4 linked regions of the Homo sapiens genome follow. The protein of the gene in region 1 purifies or fractionates together with the protein of each later gene. This does not show direct contact. Each region holds a gene or a part of one and is shown on either strand. Other genes may lie near its edges.

Region 1 (6,923 bases):
AATTCCCACACGGCGAAGGCGAGGGCTTGCAGGAATTCTCTCCAGGTGGGTGTTAGCATGGATTGCTCCTGCCTTCATGCTGATCCAGAAGCCATGCTCAGGGAATAAATCATTGCTCTTTCTGTCAGCCGGCTCCTTGCAGACGCCCAGGGACCATGACTTCACCTCTCCCACTTCAACCTCCCAGTAATGTTGGCCGGAGGAGAAGCAGGGAGTACCCAGGACACAGGCCAGCCTGGGATCTTTTGTCAGATCGTGGTGGATCTTCTTACACTGAGCGCTTCTTAGATCATTGGAGAAGACAAGGAGGGAGCTGGCAGTGGCTGCATCCAGGGTCACATCCTCCCGAAAATGCCGGAGCTCCTCCCTCACGTGCAGACTTTGCTCAAGTCGGCTATTGTGCTGCTTGGTCATAAGTGTTAGGACGCTCACTTGCCATTCTTCCAAAGCAGGTACCTTCACCACGTCTCGACACAAGGGGCACATCGCTCTAAAATCATGGTTTTCTAGTATATACCTCTGGATGCAATCAAAGCAGAACACGTGTGTACAAGAGAGAGAAATGGAACAGGAGAAAAAATCCAGGCAAACTGGACAGGACAACTCTGCTTGCAGGCGTTTGGCCATGGTTCTTAAGGGTTACTCCTTAGCCGTGAAGTAAACTGAAGTGATCCTTTATTGGCTTCTGGAAGCACTTGGGAGCCCTCAGTACACAATCCACTCTTCAATAGTCTAAATCCAAGATTAAATAATATAAATTAATAAATAAGTTATTGGCATACATAAATGAATTATATTATTTAATAAATAATAATAAATTTATTAACTAAGAAATTAAGAATAACAAAAAAATAATATTTCTGCAGTTTGTGTATGAAAGTGACACTAAATTGCTAGAGAATCACAGTAATGTAGTCATGGTGATAAAAATGATTTCGAAACTCTTCAAACTCTAGATAATCACAAGACAGAAATAGGACAGTGGAAACTTTCTTTTCAGACAGTGCAGCTTACCTAGTCTGAAGACTTCCAGGTGATGTGTTGGCTGCTCCGGCCAAAGTTTCTCCTAATGGGGGCTGAATTCAAGTGGGTCTTTAACAGAATCTCAGTATAGTCTCCACTCAGTATTTCTTTGTAGATCCTCTGCAGTTCAGGAAAAAGAATGTTCATGTCTAAATTCAATAATGAAAATAAAGCCAATTCTACATTAATCATCACAGAAAAGTGACTCTAAGGAATCCTCAGAATTTCCAGGAAAATTACCACATGTGAGTAAAGCCAGCAAAATCCACTGCAAAATGAGAAGCCCATAAAAGAATCAAGTTTAAGGACAAAGTGTTATTAGATGAAATGCTTTAAAGCACTCTAAGAAAACTAATTAAGGCTTGAATTAATGTGAATAAAAATATAATAGTCATCAACTTCTCCAAAATAATCATGCCTGAATACAAACCAAAAAGATGTTCCAGACAAGGAAGATGCCCTCCTGTTACCCCAACTGCTCCCAAAGCTTGAGAGCCTCTGGTGCTCCCAGAGGACTTCCCACCATGGCTATTATTCTTTGAGTGAGCTGTCTCTGACATGCTGGGCACAGCATATTGGACCAGGCTAGACCCATGACCCAAAGACAGCCTCGCAAAGCTGGACAGCACCTTTGAGATTATGTGAACAGAGGACTGTTCTCCAATAAGAGCCTGCACTGAGCAGTAACTAGCAGAACTCCTTACCAAGAACCCACAAATCACACATTCAGTGGTGACAGTAGTAACAGAATGAGGGACAGAAAGAGGAGCAGCATCAACATTACCAGAGAGAGGAAGTGATGAACACCGATGAGGCCAGCCTAAGACTGAGTTACTAGAACTGTCCTACATCCCAGAACACATTCTCTAATCTCTTTCCAACAAATACTTATTGAGCCCCTTCTGTGCTCTTGGCCTCAACTGGACTCTGGAAACACAAACGTGTGTAATAAACAGGGTATCTGCCCACATAAAACTTTGTCTTCCAAGTCCTGATCAGCATTCCAATCTCATGGTGCCTGGCTGGCGGACAACCAGAGATTACCTCTTTCTTAAATTCTGTTATCTTTTTCAATTTAATGGGAAATTTAACATGGTGCTGGAAATCTAATTGCCTAACCCACCTTGGAATGTATCTAAGAAAACAATTTTACAAAAGAAAAAAAATGCTACACTTATTCACAAGTTGTTCATTTCAGTGTTAACTACCATCCCAAATGATCAGGAACAATCGAATTATCTAACAATAATAAAATGATTCAGCTAATTATGACACAACTACTAAAAGTGGCCAAGTATATTTAAGTGAAAACCCGAAGTGAAGTCTTTTTTTTTTTTTGAGACGGAGTCTTGCTCTGTCGCCCAGGCTGGGGGTGCAGTGGCTCCATCTCGGCTCACTGCAACCTCTGCCTCCCGGGTTCAAGCAATTCTCCTGCCTCGGTCTCCTGAGTAGCTGGGATTACAAGCATGTGCCACCACGTCCGGCTAAGTTTTGTATTTTTAGTAGAGACGGGGTTTCACCATGTTGGACAGGCTGGTCTCTTGACCTCGTGATCCACCCACCTCAGCCTCCCAAAGCGCAGGCGCGAACCATGGCGCCCGGCCGAAAACCCAGAAATCTTTTAAGAAATGTTGGAAAATAAAAAGAAACCATTTTAAAACCATTTAAATCCATTGTAGTTGAAAACACATAAAAATACAAGTTCATGCAAAGAGTGACCTGAGGTTCATATGTAAAAATTTAAATGGCAAAGTTATAGTTAAAGGTGAAGAAAGCTCCCTGGCACAGGAAAAAACTAGTTCTTTCTCCTCTAAAATAAATAGTTAAAGGCATTCGAAAACACCAGTTTGTAGCCAAAGACAGAATAGGACATTGGAAATAGCTTAAACAGAAGGTATAACTTACCTTGACTTGGAGACTTCCAGCAGAATTCTAAAAGATCCGAAGCCTACGTCTCTACCTCTACAGACCTCTGCTCCTCTCGGAGTTTCCGCGGAGAGACACCAGCGTTTTTATACTGCCTGGAAAACATTGTCCAACCAATCAGAGTCAGAGGCTCCGCCCCAAAGGTTGTACCACTCTAATCTGAGTAAACTCATCAACCCACCCTTCCGTTTATGATGATGACATTAAAGCAGGCTTCAAATTATATAGTAAAAAAATTCAAAATTTCTTAATAACTCCCTGAATTAGAGTGAATCTACTGCCATCTGCTCTTGTCTCTAATTTCAGAACTCAACTTTAAAAAGCAAAATGTGTTGGAGATCAAATACAGAAATGCACTGCTGAAACCTAATCACCTCGTGGCTAATGTAATCATTGGTGTTCCTATTCCTGATAGAATCATGAGCGGACAGGATCTACAACAGTTTTCATGTCCTTTGACTCAACAATTCTACTCTTAGGGGTACTTACTGGACAGGATAAGAAAGATGGCAGCTAGGCAAGGCTATTGTCCTGTAATTATTAATAATTCCATTTTTTACTCTCAAAAGTGTTCTTGGATGAACGGTAAATTTTATGGTGTCTGTATCGAGAGCAGAAGGAGCAGTAAAAGTCACAACAGAGGAAAGCTAAGACACAAACTTCCAAAAAAGGATTTGGAGGGTGAATGAAGTCCCATTGTAGAGAGGATCGCTGGAATATACGTTTTCCCCAAGAGAGGCTGCATTCTAAATAACCTCTCCTTTCTCAGGCTTCCTGTTCTGCAAGGCCCAACACACAGCTTACACAGCTTTTACTTCATTTTTACCTGGTGCTATCTCCTTTTCTGTGAGTTAAATACTTGCAGGAGCAGGTCTCAAGCGTTGCTGGGGTTTTTTTTTGTTTTGATTTTTGACACAATCTTGCTCTGTCTCCCAGGTTGGAGTGCAGTGGCTCAGTCTCGGCTCATTGCAACCTCCACCTCCCAGGTTCAAGTGATTCTTGTGCCTCAGCCTCCCTAGTAGCTGGGATTACAGGAGGCCAAGGTGGGCAGATCACATAAGTTTAGGAGCTCAAACTTTTTAAATTGTAATCTCAAGACCCTTTAAACTTGAGATTTTAATCTCAAGAATCCTTACACTCTCTTTTTTAATTATTCAAAAATGTCATTTTATTTTTTCTTTCATTTTATTTTGAAATAATTTTAGACACAGAAAATTTGTAGGAATAGTAAAAAGAGATATATTCTTTACCCAGATTTACTATTTGTTTTTTAATTGTCTGATGTATGTATACACTGTGAACTGATTAAATCAAGCCAATTAACATATCTGTCACTTCACATACTTATCATTTTGTCATGAAAATGTTCAAAATCTACTATCTTAGCAATTTTTAGGTGTGCTATACATTATCATTAGTTATATCCACCATGATGTACAATGGATCTCCAAAGAGTATTCCTTCTATCTACCTGAAAATTTTGTACCTTTTAACCAATATCTCCCCATTTCAGTCTTCTTTTCATCCCAGTGCCTGGTAGCCACCATTCTACTCCATGCTTCCATGAGTTCATTTTTTTTTACTTTTTTCCATTCCACGTATAGGTGAAATCATGCAGCATTTGCCTTTCGGTACCAGCTTATTTCACTCAACATAATGTCCTCCAGGTTCCATGTTGTTGAAAATGATAGAATTTCTTAAGACTCGATAGTATTCCATCATGTACATGTACCATGTTTTCTTTATGTATTCATCTATTGAGGAATATCCTGATTCTTTATGCATTCATCAGTTGATGAATATAAGTTGATTCTCTATCTTGGCTACTGTGAATAATGCTGTTATGAACATAGGAGAGCAGATATCTCTTCAATGTACTGATTTTATTTTCTTTGGATATATATTCAGAAGTAGAATTGCTAGATCACATAGTAGCTCTATTTTTAGTTCTTTGAAGAACCCCCATACTAGTTTTCATAATAGCTGTGCTAATTTACATTCCCACCAATGGTGTACGAGGTTTCTCTTTTCTTCATATCTTTGCCAGCATTTGTTATCTCTTCTCTTTTTTATTTATTTACTTTTTTCTCATGCCTGTAATCCCAGCACTTTGGGAGGCCAAGGCGGGTGAATCGCGAGGTTAGGAGTTCAAGACAAGCCTGGCCAAGATGCTAAAACCCCGTTTCTACTAAAAATAAAAAAATTAGCAAGGCGTGGTGGCGGGCACCTGTAATTCCAGCTACTTGTGAGGCTGAGGCATAGAATTGCTTGAACCTAGGAGGCGGAGATTGCAGTGAGCCGAGGTCGCACCACTGCACTCCAGCCTGGGAGACAGAGCAAGACTCCGTCTCAAAAAAAAAAGAAAGAAAGAAAAAATTATTCTTACAGGTGTAAGGTGATATCATTTGCACTCTTATACATAAATGAGAAATCCAAAAAGCTTTTTGTTCATATGAATTATATTTCTTCATATTTACAATATTAGAAATTCAAACTGAGAATTTTTTAAAGCTCTAATTAATTAAAATAAAACTATTACATGTTAACATAAATAATATAGTTTTATTTAAACAAATAACTATTTTCTAAAACAAAAACAATTACTTAGAAGAGTTCCATTGTCTTGAATGTTTGCAAACCTCTGTAATTTTTGCTTAATAAAAGACATCTGGATTCTTACATCTACTTTTGCTGAACCTGTTGTGATATGTTGCTTTGATTTAAATATGTGAAAAAAAATGTGGCTTCCCACAGATGTTTAGTTGGAAAAGGGAAGATTCTGCAGACTCACTAAAAGTGTCTCAGGGACCTCCAGGACCTCTCTAAACTATTCAAAGATCATTGCCCTACTACAAATTCTATAACTCTAAGTGGCAGCAGCAAATCTTAGTTCCTTGGTAACCAAAAACTCTAATGATGCATCCAGCCATCTTTTCGTCTGGCTTCTGCCATCTCAAAACTAATACATATGATATGGCTAAATATGGAACATTTTCTCTCCTTTTTCCAATAATGATGAGGCTTTTTTCACTTTTCCATTTAATTTATTTAACTGCAGTGATGATTCCAAATCAAGTTTTTCTCTATCACTGAATAACACCTACTAGGCCCTCAACAGATGTTGATAATAACAAAAAACATCATTCCTTACTGACTCTTACATTTTTCAGCCAGCTCTGACTGTGGCTGGACCATACACTGACTTCATGCCTCTAAGCTTTTGTCTGCCAGGAGAAATATTTTTTTTCCCAGAAGTACTCACTTTGATTCCCAGATTCTCCATTATTACAGGAATACTGAATTCAGAGAGAAGCACCATTTTTTTTAATTTTCAAGTGCTGGAAATATTGGAAGCCACTTATCTGTGATATCTTAATACTCTCATGACAACATATCAAAAATGTGCATGAAAATTTTTTTAATTTTTAAAATAATTTTTAATTATCATTAATGCTTCCATGAGTTAAGATTAAATCACAAATTAATTTTGTTTCCATAGCTTCCTGATTAAAAAAGGAATCAACTTTCACACATGCTAATTAGATAAGATGAAGCCACTAGTGGGGAGGAGGGAATAATCAGATCTGTCAGGAATCTAAGATACTTACAAGTGGATGATATGTTTGCTCAAAACACAGTTTGCATTTTTCAAGAGGCAGCAGCTGTAGTGGGGCAGCTTTTCACAATTAGCTTCCATCCCCTGGTGTGGGGCAGGTGCTGGCTTGCAACCTCCTCTTCTCTCCCACCCGTGTCCTCTCCTCTTTTCTGCCTGGTTATACATTAAAAGGGACCCTTCTGTCTATCTTAAAGAAGATAGAGGGCATCTCTCTGAATTATTAATGCCATCAAAGCCTGCTAATGGAGTTCCCTGGCTCTTCTCTTCAAAAGGAGCTGTGTTTTGCAGATCTGGCGAATTTCATGAAGAGGAATATTTTTGGCACTTAGGATATGTAGAGTGCTCCACTTCCACACTT
Region 2 (7,026 bases), on another chromosome or scaffold:
TTTCCTGACTTACCCATCATTAAAACTGGGAGGACTAGCACGATAAACAGAGAAGGGAAAGATCAAAAGGACCCTAGATCCTAGAAATAAGGACAAAAATTAAAATGATTCAACATAAAGAAAAGACTCCAGCACATACAGCTATTCAAGGGAGAAACCTGGAAAGCAGCAACAGCCTAGAAAAGATGGGAGGTGAGGCGCAGACAGCCAAAAAAGCTGAGTTTGGTAGGAAACAGAAGACAAACACCACTGTGCCTGCAACATAATTAGCAAAGAATCAAAGCACCATGCACAAAACCACAATGGCAAGTAGACCTGAGACTGACTCTGCCTTGCTGAGGAGGCTGAGGGCAGACACCTAAAATGAAGAAATCTTGTTTTAAAAATACTAATCCTGGGTCCCTCTGACTCCCATTCTTATTCTGATTTTAGGTCTGAAATGGATCTGTATTTTAATAAGGACCCATGTAGTTCTACTGTAAGTTGTCCAAGAACCACAGTTTGAGAAGCACTGATCCAGAAGTCTGAAGAACTGCTTAGAGTAAGTGCATCAAGGCTAATAGCAATTAGCAATTCATTTTCAGAAGAGTTTTCATATGGGATTGTGTCAGAGATCATCTCTTGGGGAGAGATGTCACTTAGTGCCATCTTAAAATAAATCAATGCTCTGGAGGATGTTCTCCTGGGAATGTCTGTTGGCCCAACACATTTGCCTCTCTGAACATTACCACAGTGAATTCCAAGAGGTAACACCAGACAGAAGGGGAATTCTGGGTAGCAAAGCTCTAGGACAGGCCCATTACCCACTAAAGCATTCCTTTATGGTCAGAGCTTGACATTAGAGATGGAGACACCCACCTATACTTACCTGTGCAAAGAGGGAGATGCTGTACTGTCCCATTAAACCCTTGCTCCCTGTTCTCAGACAAAAATTCACTTCTTGCCTTAAACGGTGATACAGCACAGCTATCCAAAAAAGCTGGTGTCTTCCCTTCCACCAATCACTGAATTCAGGGACATTTGCTGAGTGATCTGGTGCCTTTGGACGTAAGGGGCAACCAAGACCTGGAAAACCAGAAACCTTTCTGTAGCATGGGGGTTTAAAGTCAGACTGGGTGGACACTTGGTTGACCTAAACCTTGTTGAGATGCCTTGATCCTGTCTCTTGGGTGACAGGAACACTTCCCAAATGGGAACTTTCTAGGTACTTCAGCTCCCTTTCTTAGTGCTTGGTGGCAGATGGTACCTACTGAGAATCAAAAAAGGTTCACCAGGCAGCCTGGCAGTAGTAGTAGCTCCAGTCACCAAGCATGCAGCTGCTGGCTAGCTGCCTTGAGACCCTTGGCAGGACAGCCAGGGGCTGACTGGATTACCACATCTCCTCAGCAGAGAACCACATTCCTTGAGCTGCCAGCCCCATATGTGACAACAGATCCCATCACCTTGGCTTCTGCTTTGTAACTGTTTGTCTTCAGCCAGATGTTTCTGGCTACTATGGAAAAGTGGAACTGTGCTAAGATGGAGAACTGGCAGGCTGTGTGCAGGAGCTGGGCAAGAGCCCTGGCTTATGAAAGAAGCTAGAGAGGTCTGTCAGAGCTACCAACATCAGATTCTGTCTCTTAATGATTTAAACGATTATTCCACAATTAGGCCGGAAGGGTTAGAAGAGCAGCTGTTGGGACTGGGATTCCAGGTGGTGAAAAGCAGAGACCAGCTTCTGCTTAAGAGAAGCAAAAGAAGAATATTTAAATGAAAACTCAACTTCCATCCTCAAATATCTAGATAAGAAAATAGACTTGATGAACATCCCACAATGACATCTCCTATTCACCCAATGTCAAATATTTCCAGCCATATGGAATTCAAGATCAGAACTTTCTTGTCATTGTGATATCAAGAGGACAGAATGACTTGTTTTCCTTTCAGAAGCTTGGTGGGACATGATGTTATGTTACCCATCATTGGTTCTGCTAGTTACCACCTAGAAATGATAAAGAGGATGCTTTATTTTTATTTATTTATTTTTTTTTGAGATTCTCTTTCATTCATTCATTCACTTTCTACTAAGTGTCAGGTTCCGCATGAAGTTCTTGGACTTCATAAAGATAAAACAGACACAGTCTCTATTCTCAAGGAGCTCACAGCCCAGGAGAAGAGAGTGACATGGAAACAAATAACTGCAGTTTGGTGTGACAAGTACTGACATGAGAATGTGTAAGAGGTACAATGATAGCACAAGGAACGAGTGATCAATTCTATTAAGATGGATGCCACAGAAAGTAAAAAGCTTGCAGGTAGCTGGAGATAGGGGACAGGAGGGCATTCCAAGTAAAGGTACCCTGGCAAGAAGGCACTTTGACAAATTCAAGAAGCTTGAAAAGTGGCTCAGTGTAGTTGGACAGAGGATATCTGTAGGAGACAGGAGGGAGAAGAGGCTGGAGAGGAAAGGACCACACCAGGCCACCCACTTTCTATCACTTTGTATATAATGGGTGCTATCTCTAGTTTTTTTATTTAAAACAAATGCTTCCCATTCCAGATATTCAACAGCCATCTACATGCACAGCACTAAATGAGGGACCTGAGGGATATCCCTCTAAGGAGCTTACACTGAACCGAATTGGGTGGATTAAACACATACGCTACACAGCTAAAGAAGACAAAAAATGGACCAACAAGTACATCCAACTATAAATGGTACAGATTGCACAAAGTACTAAGGAAATTCACAGGTTCTTGGATTCTGACAAAGCTTGAATACTATCTAATTAGAGAACTGTTCAAATGCTTGAATCCCCTTGACAAAACCCTGGCTAAATGAGCACCTATGGGACGTGGGACGTTCACTCAGGCACGTTAGTCTGGCTGAGGCCAAAAGGCCACGAACCACAGGATGCCCAGAAGGCTTTTATGGCAATATAAGAGAGACGTGCCTTAGACAAGACAGGGTCCTAGACAGGACCTTTTCTCCACTGGTGAAATGAATGGGATGATTAAGAATACAGCAACTGCCTAAAGTCTTCATCTTCCATCATAATTATAACCCACAGAAAAAAAACATTTCATGGCATACTATTACTTTTTACAGCTTGTTCCCTCACACACACACACAAAAAGCTTTAAAAATAAGCATTTCATTGGGTCCTTTATGCATCTCCAGATTAAAAGTTTCACGTAGAAGTAAGGAAGTATTCAGTTTATCTGAAGATACTTGCAGGCCTCTGGGGAATGCAGCACATATTCTAGGGTGTGAGGAAAGGCCTTTGATAGTCCAGAGCTTCCACAAATGAAGCCTGCTGGTCATGGATGGGCTTGACTACAGCCCTTCCTTACTCCTTATGACTGTGTGATAGCTCTGGTCCTGGCTGGGAGGTCACACCACTGTCCCCTCATTACCCTTCCAAGCCTAGGGGAGCTGCCATACAGTGAAGGCACAAGCAATGGCACTCACCCTCATGGAGGTCTCTCCACCATGGGCCTGTTGCAGCCTGAAGACCTGGGCCACCATGTGCTCTGTGGAGGGGTGCAGCAGGATCCTTCGTGAGGCCAAGCCCACCATTACATATCTGCCCATTGGGGACAGGCTCACCGAAATGGCATTGGGACCTGAGGGCCAACAAAACAGAGAAATATTTCCTAGGCTTCTGGCCATTCCAAGGAAACAACTTTCACTCTTACTCTTGTCTTTTTCTCTAATCTTCATATTCACTTGCTCATCCTGGTGTTATCTCATAGGACTGTAGTGAGGAGTATGATGAGAAGGCATATACATACTGAGTGTAGTGTTTGACATATAGAAAGCACATAATAAGGCTGAACGCGGTGGCTCATGCCTGTAATCCCAGCACTTTGGGAGGCCGAGGTCGGGGGATCACCTGAGGTAGGGAGTTTGAGACCAGCCTGACCAACATGGAGAAACCCCATCTCTACTAAAAATACAAAGTTAGTCAGGCGTGGTTGCGCATGCCTGTAATACTAGCTACTCGGGAGGCTGAGGCAGGAGAATCGCTTGAACCCGGGAGGTAGAGGTTGCGGTAAGCTGAGATCACGCCATTACATTCCAGCCTGGCCAACAAGAGTGAAACTCCGTCTCAAAAAAAAAAAAAAAAAAAAAAGAAAGAAAGTACTTAATAAATGCTAACCGTTGTTATCAACATTTTAAAAAATTGTTAACATCCTGTAATTACTATTTTGAAACCCACCTTTTTCATTTAATACATTATGAACACTGTTCTGTAAGAGCATTTTAAGGGCCAATGGAGCAGTTCTATCACTGCACCATCATTTGTTTAGTCAACTCTTAAAAAAAAAACAAAAAACACTTAAATTCAACTCAAGGTGACACCAACAAAACACCCACCCCACCCTCCCGCAAAACAAACAAACAAACAAACAAAAAAGTCTCAAGGCAACAATTTGGCATTTTTCTGTATGGTAACACTGCTGTGAACACCCTTGTATGTAAATCTTTGTATAGTTTTCTGATTATTTCCTTAAAAGCTGGATTGCCAAAGAGCTGACACATTTTGGGAGGTTTTAAATACACAATGCCAAACTGTCTTGCAGTGCATGTGTGTGCTACAACCACCTCCTCCCTTATTCCTGACCGTCGTAACAGGGGCATGCGGTAGGACTCTAATGCTCAGATGCTTCTGCAATGTTACTAGCCAGCACTCCTGCAAAGCAATCTTTCTCTGGCCTGTGCCCCAGTGAAGGTAGGGGCAGTATGTGACCATTACTCCCACCCAAGCTGTGCCTCACCTAGCAATGACCATGCCAAGGCACCAGCGTCCCTCTGTCATTAGGTTGGGCTTCCTATCCCTTACCAAATCGCTTGGTGTAGAGCATTTCGCCCAGGTTATGGGGGGCCAGGGAGTACACTGCCAGGATGCCTTCATCAGGAAAGCCCCTCTGGCTGCTGGGGATGAAAGCTGCCAGGAGCTGGCCATCTGCAGAAATGTCACAGCTGGCATCATTGTAGATCTTGCAGTTCTGCACCAGCACATTCACGGAAGCTGCATCAGACAAAGAAAGAAAAGAGGATAAGAAACTTTGGAGTTGATACTGTAAAAATTCTGGGGCCAAGAAACTTTAGGGACTTCCTAAGGGCCTGAACCTTGTCTAGAAATGCTAAAGAATACCTTCTCATTCAAACTAAAATGTCAAATGAACAAAACACAGGAGGCAAGAAAAGTATGTCTCTTCTCCCACCTTAGCAGGAAACTATAGGATAGTCAACACCACCACAACCACCTGCTGAGTCTTAGTTCACATTTAGGAAATACCGCTTGAGAGATTAGATAAGGAAAAAGTTATTAAAAATTATTCCTAGAGAGCCATTTAACAGCTGTTATTGTCCCAGAGATCAAAACCAAGATAAATGAAAATGCAAACCCACTGGTTCCAAGAAAAAGATGATACAGGTAGAGCTTTCTTGGGGCAGGAATCCTATTCAACACCTGTTATGTGACCTTGGAGAAGAAAGTCATTTCATAAATTTGTATCTTACTTTCTCATTTAAGAGAAAGAGAACTGGAACATCTAGAGACCAGTTTTCTGGAACAGCTCCTTGCTAATACTAATCTCTAACTCTACCAAGAGAGGAAACAGAACAAAGCCCAGCTGCGGCTGGATGGCCAGGGCTCTTTTCATTTCCCACTATGCTCTATGCCAATGTCCATGACAGCCCTAGTCTGCACTTTGCAGCTCCTGAGAACAAACTGCAGGGTCAGGCAGGCAGCAGGCTCAGCCTGGTAAGGTGGCAAGATCTGAGGGTGGAGGAATGTCTGTTGGTGAGGAGCATCCACTCCACACAACAGCACCAATGAGATGTTAACTGGCACTGTGCCTATAGGCCTTGTTTCGGTTTTCATTTGAATCCCTCTGAGTCCCACCGTGTGATTCCCTGCCAGGAAGAAGTGGCTTACCCTTGATGTGAGCATAGAACAAGAGTGCCCACATCATGGGCCCGGGCAGAACAGCACAACACATTCAAACAGACCAAGCTCATCAGGGCTTTGTCTCATGTAGATATACCTCAAGCAAAAAAACTTTTCACTGTTTCTCTTATTTGAAGGAGATGTCCACTGTCAGAGGCATTGTGGTAATTTTTTAAAAGCCAAGCTCAGCTGCCCTCGCCAGAGTCCAGGTGATCTACTGCAGTAATCCAAAAAAAGTCAAGGGCAAGTTTCCCTAGGAAATTACCTCAAGGAAAACAAAACAAGGAATTGCTCTTTCAGAGGCCCCCAGGCTTATGTGATCTGATACTTAAGAGTGATTTGTAAAACTCTATTTGTTCTCCTTTCCCTGTGTGTTGCTAATGAGATGACAGTGTATATCAAAAAAGGCATTAGAATACATTGATTAGGCTATTGTGCCAACTCGGGGGCTGACACCTACAGCACCATTACACATAAAACCGAAGAGGGACCACAAGGATGGTTCTGTTTGCTAACTAATAAAATAATGATATCCAAATACTCACTGCTATCACCATTAGGCCTTTCTACTGCTCAACTCCCAACCCACCATCTGGTCTAGCCTGTAAGGCTAGATTTATCTAATTAGCACTGGGACCGTCTGCTACTTACTACTCAGGGTCCCAAGCCCTTTGCCAAAACAAAAACAAAAACAAAAACAAAAACAAAACACGGCAATATCCCTCTCCTTTTCTGGATCAACACATGAATCCAGCTGGGGATATAGAACCAAAGGAACTGGGAGAAGTTTCAGAAGTGAGACCATCTTGGTTTTCTAACTCTGAGGCTGACAATGCTCAGAAAAATAAACAGAAACTAACAATTTACACTCTAACCACCAAAAGCAGGGAGAGAAAGAAAATAAAGAAATCATAAATGTTAAGTAGTACATGAACCTAAATAGGAAAGGAGATGAGACTCTATGGGCTTTAAGACAGCTTTGAACAGTTACCATTTTATCTACATTTAATGTCTCGAAAATGTCTGTTGGGTATGTTATTAAAGTAGACTTTCCTATCTTGCTGTTACATAGATCCAGCTCGTGTGT
Region 3 (7,026 bases), on another chromosome or scaffold:
TTTGACTTTTCCATCTTCTCCACCCCTTTATCTAATTAATCATTAAATTTTCTCCTATTCTCTAATGTATCCACATTTCTCTAGCTCCTCTGCTACTAACCTTGGTAAGGATAGCATCACGTCTTGCCTCCTTGCAGCAGGCTTCTATCTGATATCCCTACTATCAATCTTGATCCTTTTAAAACACAAATCTGTCACAAATCCATCTGTTTCCCCGTCTTACAAGATGAATCTCCCTAAATTCTTAACATGATTTCTAAGTCTTTCTTGAGTTAGCCCACTGCTTACCTTTCTAGCCTCCATTCTTTCCTCACTTCCTCTCTCATGCTCTGTTTCAGCCATAATAATGTGCTATGCTCTCTACCCTCTGGGTCCACTGCACATGCTGCTCCCTGTCTGGACCTTGTCTTTAACTGTACCTCCTCTGAGAAACCTCTAATCCCTGCAACCAGATTAGGAGTCCTTCCTGTAATTAACTGTCTGTTCTTCCCTATGTTATAACTGCCAGCTTACTTGTCTATATTCTAAACTAGAATATAAACTCCTCAAGAGCAGGGATGACATTGATCCTGCTCAATCTCCATGAGGGAAGAGATTTATGTATCTTCTTGAGAGTTATGTCTCTAGTTCCTAGGATAACTCCTGGCATATAGCATGCATGTAGGTAATAAATACTTGCTGAATGAATGAGCTTACTTCATATTGTAGTTGTAAAAATTAAAGTAACATGGGAAAAGCAACTAATTCATAGCAAGCACTTATATATATACTATTTGTTACCAAAATTAAAATTTAGCTGTATGCTCTAATAAACTTGTGTATTAGGTTACTGTGGACAAGATGGCTCAATGTGTTGACTTACCATGTGTTGATTATTAGAGATACAATTAGAGGAAAAGGTATGGCCAAATAAAACAGAAGACTGAAATCTAAGAGTGGCATATTTGACAGTATTTCTCTACTTTTCACCTTTGGGTAGTAGAAACAAAAATATCTATACCAAACAAAAAAAAAAAAGCTGAAAACCTAGCAATGAGAGAATGATGAATGAGGAAATCTTTCCAACAGTAGTGTTTCTTTAGTCTGGGTAGAGACTATTTTGACACAGGGGTGGGATACTCAGTTTGTCTCTAGTGCACCAGAAACATAAACATATTACATTTTCCCCTTTTGCTTTTCCTCAGATGCTGGCTTTTCCTTAAAATATATCAAAATACAAAAAACACAATAACCAACCTCTAAATAATTGAGTGCAGTGTGGCCTGATCTACTATATAGCTAAAACACTATAAATTCTATAAACTTGGTGTTTAATTCTTTGTAGCAATAGGCAATGGCTCTAAAATCTTGAACCATGGTACCAGGTTCATTTGTGGGAGTAAAACAGTATGTGTGCCCTTTTACCTATGTTAATAAAAACAGCAGCTTCTAACTAAACTTATTCATTTTACTATTTATAATAAAGGTTACTTTTTTTGGTGGAGGGCTAATACAAAAACAATAAAATCAAACTGATCAGTAAGTAGTCTACTGCATCTTTCAGTAAAGTGAACCAAAGTAATTTGAAAGACGTTAAAAAAACACTATAATGTAACAGTTTAATTAAAACACTTAACCTACTCTAAAATATTTTATTATTTTGTATTTTGTTTGTATGGTACTGATACAAGCTCCGTAAAAAATCAAATTGGATTTACTACTTCTATTACTGCTCTTTGACTAAATAATGTTAACTACTTTTCTAACAGCTTGACTTGGGCCCAAATTTGACTTACCAAAAGTTAGAGAACGAATCCTAGATCACAGAGATACAGGGTGAGCATCCCAAATCTGAAAACTGAAGTCCAAAAGGCTTCAAAATCTGAAACTTTCTAAGTGCTGAGATGATATTCAAAGGAAATGCTCATCGGAGCATTTTGGATTTCAGAATAGGGATGGTCAATCTCTAAGTATATAACGCAAATATTTCAAAATCTGAAAGTATCTGAAACATTTTTGGTCCCAAGCCATTTTGGATAAGGTATACTCAACCTGCAATTCTAATATAACCCATTATTCAATTCCAGTAAAAGAATAGGAACAACTGTTTAAAGCAGTCAGAAAAAAAAAAAAGTTTGGTTTTTGTCACTTTTATTCTTTAATAGTTTACCATACCAATTTTCAATCCTACATTAACTCACACGTTAATTAATTCATTCACTAATTAACCAAGGACTATATCAGGTATAATTCCTCCACGTTAGGCCATATTTCATATCATACTCCTTGCTGTTAGATGGCTCAATGAAAGTATTTGAGGAGCAAAATAAAAAGGGATCTCCTTCAATTAGAGATCTTTTTAGTTTTTAAGAAGCAAAATGTTGCGATAAAACCTGAACTAACAATCAGTAATCTGTAAATTGTCTAGTGTAAAACCTCTCAAAGTGGGTTTTCAAAAAAATAACATTGAATAAACGTGTGGATAGATTTAAGAAGATCAACATCACTTCAGAGAATTAAGACTCCCTGCAAAAAGGGTTTTGGATATAAATACAAGTATGCATTTAACTCAACAATACAATGAAATATCCAATCAGAAAACAAAAAAAATTATGTACATGATCCTGAAATAACTAGATAATTTCTGCCAAATGACAGGGGGCAAAATAAAAGTACAAAAGTTATAAACATATTGGAGAAAATGAAATAGAATTTTCTTACCCAACGATGACTTTACAATTGATTTAATTCCTGCATAAACCAATGATCCTTTGTTGCCTGGAGATTTCTGATCCATATCTTCTGTGTATTGCTTCATAAGTATTTAAATGCATAGGAAATACTAGTGATGCATGACAATATATTTCAAAGCTAAATTTATTTTGATTTGGAGCCAATTCATAATAAGTATCAGTGTAAATAAGGTGGTTCGACTCTATTGCAGAGATACACTTTTCTTCCTCCTACACAATCTACAAAGCAGTATTTCAAGTTCGAAAGTTTAGAACAATTTTACTTTATAATGTTAGTATTATGTAACTTGTATTTGTATATAAAACATTGAGCATATTTACAGACTGACCTTTTGGCAAACTTCAAGAACATTTCTACCTGATTCACCTCACAAAATTCACAATGAAAAGGATATAGTGCAGAGTATACCAGAGTGACTTGAGCTGTGGATCTTCATTTCCAGCTAAAATGTGGTTCCTCCACACCTGCTCTGTATCAAGTCCATACCTTGATAAAGCCCGAAGACGCATCTTCGTTGCTATATCTTTTTCTAAAGAATTATCATTTTCTTCTTCCGTACATTCATATAAATGACGACCACAAGCCCACATTAAAGATGTAATTGGGCTCCAGGCAAGAGATATCCTTTCAAAAACAGTGAAGTCTGACATTGTTCGGTTGGGAGTTACAACTATCATTCGATTTTGACTTGTTGGATGCCACGCAAAGGAAGCAATGTAATTGTCACAAGGTTGCACACTTCTTTCAATTATTGTGGGTTCAGTTTCATCCCCAATGGGAGTGGGTGTATGCTGCATATCATACAATCTAATAATATTACTATCCCTTGTTAAAGTGGCAAGTAGACCAGTCCTAGTGGGACACCATGCTACTTTTGTTAAGGGTTTTGGTTGCTCAGTCAATGTCAAAACTGGCTTCTCAAATTTTCTAAGATCCCATATTGCAACCTGACCTTCATAGAAGGAAGCAACACGATCGTGGAAATATGGGTCTACCGTCACACCCTGAACAGCTTTTGTATTTACGAACATCTTTTGGCTTGTATTCCGAAGATCAAATATAGCTAGGTTACGATGCATACCAGCAAGGAGAAGTTTCTGGTCTCGTGGAAGCCAACAAAGAGACAGACAAGCATCATTCTGTCCTAACTCATAAAGTGGTTTTGTTACTAATAATGTTGTTTCAGTTTCACCTGCTGAAAGTTTCACTTTTTCCATGGGAACTATATCAGGAGTATATTTGCTGCAGATATCCCATATTAGCACTGAAAAGTCAGCTCTGTGCTTATCTAAACCAGCAGCTAGCCAGTTACTATCCAGTGGATTCCAGGCAAGGGTATTACATTGTCGTGCATGTTTTGGAACAAACTCTTTTCCTATCAAATCTTTGAACTTTGAGTTATGATCTTGACCAAGGCTTGTAAGTACAACTCGACCATTTGCTTGTCCAACTGCCAGCAGACATTCAGGATCATAATTAAGATACCAGGCAACACATTTCATATAGGGTGTATCTGAATTTATTGACAGTAATGTAGCTGCAGAGTCTTCAGATAAACGTAAAGATCCAGCTTTGAGTTCTGAATTCACAGTAGATTCCACATGATAAAGACTTAGTTCTGAGTCACACACAACAAATCTATCAACATGGTGTGGTGCCCATAAAATATCAGGTTTGGTACCGCTCATGTTTACTGATGTGATCAAAGGGTCCACTCAGGTCCATTCACTGAAAATGTTTAAAAATAAAAAGTTTTAAAATATCAGCAAAATATAATTCTTACGTTGAATAAACTATTCAGAAAGTCAGAAAATTCTCTATTCAAGAACCCTCTTTTTCAATATATTTGTATTTCTTCTCTCTATCTGCTATGAATTCAAGAAAATATTTATTGAAAAAAAAGGAGAAAGAACAACCACTTCCAATAAAATGAGCTGGTAGGAATCTGAGAATCCCATCCTGGCTATATTTCCCATGATCAATTATCTTAATTGCACTGTTACTAGTACCTTCAGCTTAACTTCAGAGTTATAACAACTTCAGTGTGGTAAGCAAATTAATAAGTATTATCCCTTTGAAGGGGGGAAAACTTATGAATCATATTCCTAAGCAATAGTTTAAAGCAGCACTGCCCAATAAAACTTTCTGCAATGACAGAAATGTTTCATGTTCATGCTGTCCAATATGGTAGCCACTAGCCACATGTAGCTACTGAGCACTAGAAATGTGACTAATTCAAATTTTAAACCTTAATTTTAACAAATTTTAATATAAATAACCATATGTGGTCATCGTAATGAACAATGGAGATTTAAAGTACAATGTCATACTAAGACAGCGGTTTCTTCAACTTTAGTAATAAGCATCAGCCTTGTATGGCAGAATAAACACTGGAATGTACTGAACGAACCTGAGTTCTAGTCCTAGCTCTGCCGTATATTAGTTATATGCCTCAGAAAAGTCATTGTGTGTGGGGAACCCCTTTGTTTTCTCATCTACACAATGTAGGAGCTGGTTTAGATTAGTATTTCCCAAACTTCAGTCATGTAACACCTATGCCATTAATATTTTTCTTTAAACTGACTCATTTTTAAAATCTGAAAATTGACTTTAATCTCTTCATAAGGTCCATGAATCATGGTATGCTATGCTAAATATATTTTTAACCTACACTGAAATATATAACTATTAAAAAGGCTTGATTGTGTTTTATCTACAAAGCATCCTGTTTATGACCAGTGGTACACACATACCACACTCTGAGAAAGTGGATTAAGTGATCATTAGAGGCTCTTTCAGTTTTCGCTTCTACAAACTTTGAATAAGTGTTAAAGTAGAATTTTTGAAAAAAATAAATATTCTAGCAGTAGAAGCACACGAACTAAATATAGCTATAGTTAAAAATGGTGTTTCAATAATTAAGGTTGCCTACAAAAATTTAAATGCCTGTTTCTAACAGAGGCTGGCAAAAGGTAATAGATTCAAAAAGAATGAACATACTTAAAATCTTCATTGCAATTGGCATCTGTACAACTCTGTTGTCAGTTCTCATAAGGTAAAGCTATGGTTCACTTACCTCTCTATCCTTAGTGCCATATATAGAGCCTGGCATAGACTCCTAATAAGGATACACTAAATAGTTCAACTCAAACATAATTGCTTTTCTTTTTGATCTTGCAAAAGTTTCAGTTGGGAATTACCAGTCTAAAACTTCATAGACTCATATAATTTAGACCAGGGGTCCCCAACTCCCAGGGCCGCAGACCAGTTCTGCTCCCTGGCCTGTTAGGAACCAGGCCACACAGCAGGAGGTGAGCAGCAGGCAAGGGAGCTAAGCGTCATCTGTTATTTACAGCCACTCATCTCACACACTGCTGCCTGAGCTCCGCCTCCTGTCAGATCAATAGCAGCATTAGTTTCTCACAGGAGTGCAAACCCTATTGTGAACTGTGCAAGAGAGGGATCTAGGTTGTGCATTCCTTGTGAGAATCTAATGCCTGATGATCTGTCACTGTCTCCTATCACTCCCATATGGGACCATCTAGTTGCAGGAAAACAAGCTCAGGGCTCCCACTGATTCTACATTACGGTGAGTTGTATAATTATTTCATTGTATAGTACAATGTAAATAGAAATAAAGTGCACAATAAATGTAATGCGCTTGAATCATCCTGAAACCACACCCCCACCCCTCATCCGTGAGAAAATTGTCTTCCATGAAACTGGTCCCTGGTGCCAAAAAGGTTGGGGACCACTGATTTAGGAATTCTTATACTGGTTTTATTTCCTTCTTTAGCATTTCTCAAGCCCAAGATCAATCATTTCAATATTCTTACTAGCACCCTCAATGTCTTCATTTCCTTGCCACTTTGGGTTTGCCTTTCCCCAGTCCTAGATCAACCCAATTATTTATCATCTTGTCTCCTCACTCAGGCTTCCAAGTGCTACCACACAGAGGATAGTCTCAAGCCTCTGAAAACTGATTTCAGTAAATTAAGGTATACAACATATCTGGTGTGTGGTGCTGGAGGCTTTTCTTTTATTCATCTTTCCCCTGGTCCTTCAGAAATTTTGCTTTATAGAATACCAGAGTAAAAATCTTTCTACAACACAACCTTGACCAGGCTATCCTTCCTTGCTTAAAACCCTCTAATGGTCTTCAGCTGCTCTTAGTATAACCTACAAAACCCTAAATGCTTTTGGTCTCTGCCTACTGCACCGGCCTTGTGGCACAACATTCTTGCTGTCCTTTTACACTGTCCTTTCCACTTCCTAGAGTATATACCCTCCTCC
Region 4 (7,635 bases), on another chromosome or scaffold:
GAGCTGGGCAGAGGCGCTCCTCACTTGCCAGACAGTGGAGCAGCCAGGCAGAGGTGCTTCTCACTTCCCAGACGGTGGGGTGGCGGGGGGCGTGGGGGGGGGGTGGAGGGGGGAGGGCAGGGCAGAGGCGCTCCTCACTTCCCAGACGGTGGAGCAGCGGGGCAGAGGTGCTCTCACTTCCCAGATGGTGGAGCAGCGGGGCAGAGGTGCTCCTCACTTCCCAGACGGGATGGGGGCGGGGCAGAAGTGCTCCTCACTTCCCAGAAGGTGAGGCGGCGGGGCAGGGGTGCTCCTCACTTCCCAGACGGTGCGGGCCGGGCAGATGGGCTCCTGACATCCCAGATGGTGCAGTGGCCGGGCAGTGGCGCTCCTCACTTCCCAGACAGTTGGGCGGCCAGGCAGGAGGGCTCATCACTTTACAGACAGGGCGGCAGCTGGGCAGAGGCGCTTCTCACTTCCCAGACGGGTGACCTGCACTTTTCATGAATGGTACTAACCAGTTTGAATTTATGTGATTATATTTTAAATGTCAGCCTCCCTCCCTAGACTGTGAGCTCTGTCAGAGTAGGGCCTGTGCTTGCTTTGTTCACCACTGTATCTCTAGCACCTTGTATGGCACCTGGCATATTTGTTGAAAGAATGAACTACATCAATGATTTTCAAAGTGTGTTCTGAGGTAGCATCTTATGTGTCGTGGTAAGGGACTGAGGAAAATGTCAGCTGGTTGCCTCCTCCCAGGTCCTGTTTTATTTGGCTCAAATATTGGATCCTGGCATAAGAATATGAGTATACAAGAAATTTCCAGTGCTTCAGAAAATATTGTACAAACTGCTGAATTAGTTGATGTTAATGTATCTTCCATCTTCAATATAACGTGATCCTAGGTCAAAATAACAAAGGGGGCCAGGCGTGGTGGCTCACGCCTGTAATCCCAGTACTTTGGGAGGCTGAGGTGGGTGGAAGCTTGGGGCCAGGAGTTTTGAGACCAGCCTGGGCAACATGGCAAAACCTCATCTCTATAAAAAATACAAAAATTAACTGGGCACAGTGGTGCGTATCTCAGCTACAAGGGACACAGGAGGCTGCAGTGAGCCTAGACTGTGCCAGTGCACACCAGCTTGGGCGACAGAACGAGATCCTGTCTCCAAAAGAAAAAAAAAATAACAAAGGCCATGTAGGAATATACATGTCGTAATTAGGGAGTGGTATTTGCCAGCAAGGTTGGCAGTGGTTCCCTTTTCCAGGAGCAATGAAGCTTCTCTTTCCTACTCTTAATTGAGGATCTCAGGGGCTCCCATCCCTTTCCACTTGGCTAAGAGTTATTCTCAGGCCTAGAGTTTTTTCTTGGCTACCCTCTTTACCATCCATGAACTGCTTTCTCCTTATCCTGTAGGGATTACCCCAAAGACCCTACAGTCCAGCCATTTGGGGTTACTTGTAGTTTTCTCCCATTCACATACTCATTCATGCAGTTCCCTCATCCAAGAATTATTTTTTTCTTCTTAGCAAAGTCATCCTGTAACTTAAATGCCAATCCTTGTAAGAAGCCCTTCCCAGAAGCCCTCCTCCCCTCCCACAGTACTTTATGTATCTATATAGAAACTTCTGCAGTTCAAATGGGCAAGTTACTTGCTTTATCAATAGAAAAATACAAATAATATTACAGGCTCGGTTCCCAGGAAGCACACTCTTACATGACTAGTGTGCAGGAGATTTATTAGGGAATGCTCTTGGGATCATTACTTGTGGGAGGGAAGAAAAGCTGAACTGGGCAGAAGTTGGACTTCAGTGAAGTCTCAATGGAATGCCTTAGCTGATCCTGCAAGTTGTTCTGCAGGAGGAGAAAATCCATCAGAATTGTACCAAATGGAGGTGAGAGGGCTGAGCCTTTTATCCCTGCATTGATCAGTCACTGGATGTGGCCTCTCTGAGAACATTATGACTCTGTGACACTGGCATGCCTGAAAGGGGCTGACAACCGATGGCTGGCTGTGGGTATGACTCTTGGCAGCAGCAGCTCAGTTCTTTATTCCTGAAGTGGGGTCTGAAAAGTGCATCTCAAGGCCTACCACAAATAGTATATATCTCATAGGATTGTCAGAAGCCTAAAATAGGGTAACATAGAAAAGTACACAGCATTTGGCCTGGCACATAGGAATCAAAAGCATGCTAAGTATGGTTATTATAATAGGATTTGGCTCTATAAGTAGAAAGAGCAAGGTAGGGAAACGTGTTTATTTTTGTATCTCTAGTCTTAGCATAGGGCACTAGTATGTTTTATCTTTCCTTTTTTATTTTTGAGACAGTCTTGCTCTGTCGCCCAGGCTGGAGTGCAGTGGCACGATCTCGGCTCACTGCAACCTCCACCTCCCGGGTTCAAGCAATTCTCCTGCCTCAGCCTCCCAAGTAGCTGGGATTACATGGGATAACAGGCGTGTGCCACCACACCTGGCTAATTTTTCTATTTTTAGTAGAGACGAAGTTTCGCCATGTTGGCCAGACTGGTCTTTAACTCCTGACACCTCAGGTGATCTGCCTGTCAAGGCCTCCCAAAGTGGTGGGATTACAGGCTTGAGACACCGCGCCCGGCCTCCCCCACCCCCGTTTTTTTTTGACATACTGCCACCCAGAAACACTAGTATGTTCAATAAATACTTGATGTGTTAAAAACATGTAACCCTTTTTCTTGAAGTAGATGTTACTTTGAGTTGAACTCAAAGCTAAAATACAAAACACCATTTAAAACATTTAATAACTTTTATTAGCAACATAAAAGAAGGCACAACACGTATCCACTTGCCCGAAAAAAAAAATAGTGTTGCAAAGGAAAACAAAAGTAATGAAACAGCACTGGACAATTGTCAAAGAAGAGCCCCAGTTAACGGCTTCTACCACTGGATTTTATATTTTTGGAACATAATCTTTATAGCCACGGAAGGAGGTTTAGCTGTTTTTCCACAGCTCATAAATGATGAAGTTATTTATCTTCATTAATGTGTGTTGGGCTTTATTTTCCTACATGCTCAATATAGTTGGTAGATCTGTTTTGATATTACTGAGCACTGCTTTGTGCCAGACACAATTCTGGGGATACAGCAATGAGCAAAACAGTTTACTAAGTCCCTGCTTTTAAAAATTTTACATTTCTGGTGGTGAGGATACTGACAAATAAGGTCTGGAAGTTGTAACTGTTATGAAGAAATAAAAGCAGGTGAAGAGTTAAAGCAATGGTGCAGGTGTACTTTTTTTGGATACAGTGGTCTGGGCAGCCCTCTGAGAAGGGACCTGAAATATGCATCGAACATCGAGGAGTTAAAAAAAATCTGGAGGAAATGTTCTGCCAGAGAAATCGGCAAGCACAAAGGCCCGAAGTGGTTCGAGCCTGCGTGCTGTGGTACAAGCCAGAGGTGAACGAGGCGAGGCAGAAGCACGATCATAAATACATGTATGGATGTTCTCCTGGCTTGAGACCACAGTGCTAAGGGAGGTGGGGTTTACAAATCTCTCAGGAGGCCACAAAGGGCAGGATGAAGCCGATTTCCAATGGCGGAGCTACGAGGACGCCTTTCCTCTGCTAGGGCCAGGTTGGACGGTTGCAAGGGATGGACTGCAACCCGCCCTCGGAAGACCAAACTTCGCCCAGGGGCAGGGACTGGCCGGGGAGGGCCTCGGCGGCGCCCGACCCGCGGGCGCTGCACGGGCCGCGGTTACCAGCAGGCGGTGTAGTGAGCGCGCCTGCAGCAGCAGCAACAGCAGCAGCAGCGGTCGCCGCCGCCGCCGCCGCCCGCCAGTCCCAACGAGGAGAAAGGAGGGGACCGGAAGGAGCCGCTGGTGCTGCGGGAAGTGGCAGGAGCGGGAGGCGGGGACCCACCTGGAAGCGCCGCGGCGCCGCTATCGAGCTTCCTGCAGCGGTGGCCACCCGAGCAAGTGCCGTGGCGGGGGCGGAGAGCGGCCACGGCGGCGGCGCCTCCCCAAGTGGCCCGTTGCGTCCGACCCCGCGTGAAAGGTGAGCAAGAGCTCGGGACACGTGGTGAGGGCCAGACACGGGGGAGGGAGAATGAAGGGGGAGGGAATGGGGGTGGGAAACGATCGGCTTGGGACCCGGATTTGGAGCCAAGTACCGGGAGGGGGTGGGCTGGAGGCGACGACTGCGACGGCTGCGACGGCTGCGACGGCGAAGCCCCCACGTGGGGCGGGGGTGCGCGCGCACGTGTGCGCGGGCGAAAGGGGGGGCGGGGAGGGCTTTTGGGAGGGCGTCGGGAGCGCGCTCGCTCAGTAGCGGCCCACGTGACGGGCACGCCGAAAATGTTTCCACGTGACAGGGAGGCTGCCTGGGGCAGCGCACTGCGCTCTGTTTATGTAGTATAATCGTGGTAATCGGAGGTTTTTAAGATTTCTGCTTTTCTGTACAAGGGGAAAGGAGGAGACGTATAAAGCGGAAAGACTTCCTACTGTCTCAGTGTTTTAAATGTTCACTACTCCGTTAGTGAAGTGCTTTTTAAGTTCCGAAATACTGATTTTTTTCTGTACCGCCATGTTGGGTCTAGTGGAAGCTCGCGAGATGCGAGTGGGTTTGTATCGCGAGATCTCTCGATTCTCGCGGGACCTCGTTGGCAGAGCAGTTGTCCTGGATGGCGGAGCCTTGGGTTCCGGGGGCCTGGGACCTGCAACTCTTTCTACAAGGCAAGTCGTTAGGGAGGGGCCCGGGGCGAGTGCCTCTTGGTGCCGGGATACGTGCTGCATCAGCTTCCCATAGTCTTGAAGGGAATACAGTAACCCCATTGAGGCAACACTGCCCTCCCCATCCCCCTGCGGGCGCTCCACCACCTGCAAAAGCATATGCACCCCTCAGCCAGGTCCTTCTCCCCACGCAGTGATAGTTCCACCCTGTCCCACTCACTGGAAGTCCGGGAGCCGTGCTCGCGCAGACCTGATGATTCCATTGGATACCGTTCCTCTTACTTTAAGATGTTCTTGTCAGTTTTTCCCTTCTTGCCATTTTCTAAAGTATTCCAGACCGGTTAACTATTGTGTCGCGTTTTCTGCTGCAGTACCTGACTCCAGTCTCCTGAAACAGAACTCCTCCCATCTATTTTCTCTGGGTGTCATTTACTCATCACCCTGACTTCGTATTTTCAGTAACTTTTGGCAGTATTTGGAGGGCCCATTATGTCTCTGACAACACCTGTGGTCAGAATAAAATCCTGCTTTTCATCATTTTGTACGTGCCTATTAACTCAGTTATCGGTAGGGTTTTAATTACTACTGTGTTACTGAGGTTGCCATCTTTGAAGTTTAGGGATGGTTGTTTTAGGTTATATATTTAAGGTAACAGACTGTTTCATGTGATTTTTTTTTTTTTTTTTTTGAGACGGAGTCTCGCTCTTGTCGCCTAGGCTGGAGTGTAGTGGGGCGATCTCGGCTCATTGCAACCTCCGCCTCCCGGGTTCAAGCGATTCTCCTGCCTCAGCCTCTCGAGTATCGAGTAGCTGGGATTACAGTCGCGCTTCACCACGCCCGGCTAATTTTTGTGTTTTTAGTAGAGACGGGGTTTCACCATGTTGGCCAGGCTGGTCTCAAACTCCTGACCTCAAGTGATCCACCTGCCTTGGCCTCTCAAAGTGCTGGGATTTCAGCACTGTACAGGCGTGAGCCACCGCGCCCGGCCTCAGGTCAACTTTTTAGTAAAGAGCAAACTCATAAATTTTGGCATCAGAGTTTGAGCTTTATTTTTCTTAAATGAGTTTGAAATCAATTTAATATTTCTCTCCAATTCCCTAATGTCTCAGAAGTGAATTTACAGTATACCTTTGTTTTTTCGTATTCTTAAGTAGTATTTGGATTTTATTTAGTAGTTGCAGTACTAAATAAGGAGTGGGGAGTTAATTACAAAACGAATCAGGTGACTAGTTAATTTATTCATAGTTTGTTTTTTAAAACTACAAAAGTGTTTTTTTTTCCTATACATAATACAGAGAGGTATATAGTATAGAGTAACACAGTGCTTGTTTCACGGTACCACAAAGTTCCATTCCTCAGTCTTAAATCTCTGTAACCAGCCTTTGTGGTTGCTGTGTATCATTCCAGATATTTCCATATTTTGGTTTAGTTTTTGTTTCTTAAATGAAGGGGAGAAAGTGTTGTTTTAATGGGGTACCAACACAATATTGGCAATCAGTAAACATTTTTTAACTAAATTAAATTTTTATTTAGTGATATATGCCTGTTTGTCAAGACTTACGTATGCATACTTACGCAGATTTTTTTTGTTTGTACTGATTTTTTTGGTAGTATAATCTTGTGAAAATATCACAAGTAACTTATTTTTGCAGTAAAGTTGATTTATTGTGCTTGGTAGCTTTGCACAGAAAGAAAGTACATGTAAAACAAGATTTAAATAAATTAATGTTTTATCACTTGAGTTTTATATTTTTATCTTTAATGTGTGTTATGTATTTAACTTTATATATTATATATTCTAAACTGTAACCTAACTATATAGGAGTTTTTCAGACGTTTTAAAAGTTTATCACTGTGATTAAAATGATAGTTTGACCATGCAACTTAGTGATCTCAATTGGAGAGTGGTAGACATTAGTAGTTAGTACAAACAAAGGTATATATACTTGAAGTTGCTAAGCGGCTATCATTTTGTAAGTGTTGTTTTTGTAATTTCCCCCCGCCAAACCTACCAGTAATAATATTTATCAGACCAGTCACATAAGAGAATTGTCCACTCTTTGGGCAATGTGGTTTTTTGTTGTAACAGTGCAAGTAGAAATGTTGAGGAATAGAAGTGAGTGTTGAGAGGTATGATGTTGGAAAGAGGAAAAGGGGACATTGGGAGTGTAGAGGTTGATACTGAAATGGAATTGGACAAGTTGGGGAGAAAAGAGGAATGTAGAAGGTTGACAGTGAGGCAAGAGCCATGGTGCAAGAATAGTCAGGCTCATAATAGTTGGAGGACAGCCCGAGTCGGTATTTGAGGCAACTTTCTCCTCCTATTCTTTTTTAGATAGTTCTGGGTCTATTCACAGAATTGCTAGATATTTCCTGTCATAAAAGTCAGCAGCTTAAGGTTATACTTAATTGAAACCTTGTGAATTCTTTACTTTAGATAAAGCTATTCTGTTAAATAACATTTGTTAAGTACGTTTTATTATTATTTTTAGAAGTGGGAAATTGTGAAAATGACAATGAGTTTGAAGGTCACAGTTCTACAATGGCCTTTGCAAAGGTATCTACATAAGTTTAGCTTGGTAACTGGGCCTTTAATAGTCCACGTGCATCTGATCTATGAAATAATATATGTTCCTTGTTCTTAGAACTTTTGTTTTATAAACTTTTCAGTATTGGGTCTTGGGAAATACCAGTCTTTTACAGACACGAAATTATTTGAGGTACTTGGTAGAAATATACTGAGAAAAATCCAAGGAAGAGGAAAAATGTATTTTTACATGGTTTGTGTTTGGTTGAGTAAAATTTAAATAACCAAGAAATTTAATTTTCACTTTTCTCAATTATTACGGTCATATAAATGATGAGAGCTAATGAACTTCAGTGATCAGAGGAAACTATTAACAGTGATAATATAATAATACTGATTTATTCTCACTTGAGTTTTTTCCTTAAGGT

The links.
Region 2: the proteins of RFPL4B (region 1) and AMBRA1 purify together in Homo sapiens (affinity purification with mass spectrometry; 3 studies listed by BioGRID and IntAct, with this or other methods). This does not show direct contact.
Region 3: the proteins of RFPL4B (region 1) and MIOS purify together in Homo sapiens (affinity purification with mass spectrometry; 4 studies listed by BioGRID and IntAct, with this or other methods). This does not show direct contact.
Region 4: the proteins of RFPL4B (region 1) and ZZZ3 purify together in Homo sapiens (affinity purification with mass spectrometry; 3 studies listed by BioGRID and IntAct, with this or other methods). This does not show direct contact.

What each region holds. Positions count from the first base shown.
Region 1 is NC_000006.12:112,343,413-112,350,335, reverse strand, and holds the start of RFPL4B (ret finger protein-like 4B), read right to left. Parts: upstream 3,007-6,923; 5' UTR 2,929-3,006; intron 1,144-2,928; 5' UTR 1,015-1,143; intron 733-1,014; 5' UTR 628-732; coding exon 1-627.
Region 2 is NC_000011.10:46,430,023-46,437,048, forward strand, and holds part of AMBRA1 (activating molecule in BECN1-regulated autophagy protein 1), read right to left. Parts: intron 5,016-7,026; coding exon 4,827-5,015; intron 3,607-4,826; coding exon 3,452-3,606; intron 1,066-3,451; exon of another isoform or gene 869-1,065; intron 1-868. UniProt on the Homo sapiens protein: Substrate-recognition component of a DCX (DDB1-CUL4-X-box) E3 ubiquitin-protein ligase complex involved in cell cycle control and autophagy.
Region 3 is NC_000007.14:7,569,871-7,576,896, reverse strand, and holds part of MIOS (GATOR2 complex protein MIOS), read right to left. Parts: intron 4,462-7,026; 5' UTR 4,422-4,461; coding exon 3,128-4,421; intron 2,800-3,127; coding exon 2,701-2,799; intron 1-2,700. UniProt on the Homo sapiens protein: As a component of the GATOR2 complex, functions as an activator of the amino acid-sensing branch of the mTORC1 signaling pathway. The GATOR2 complex indirectly activates mTORC1 through the inhibition of the GATOR1 subcomplex.
Region 4 is NC_000001.11:77,679,633-77,687,267, reverse strand, and holds the start of ZZZ3 (ZZ-type zinc finger-containing protein 3), read left to right. Parts: upstream 1-4,609; 5' UTR 4,610-4,683; intron 4,684-7,635.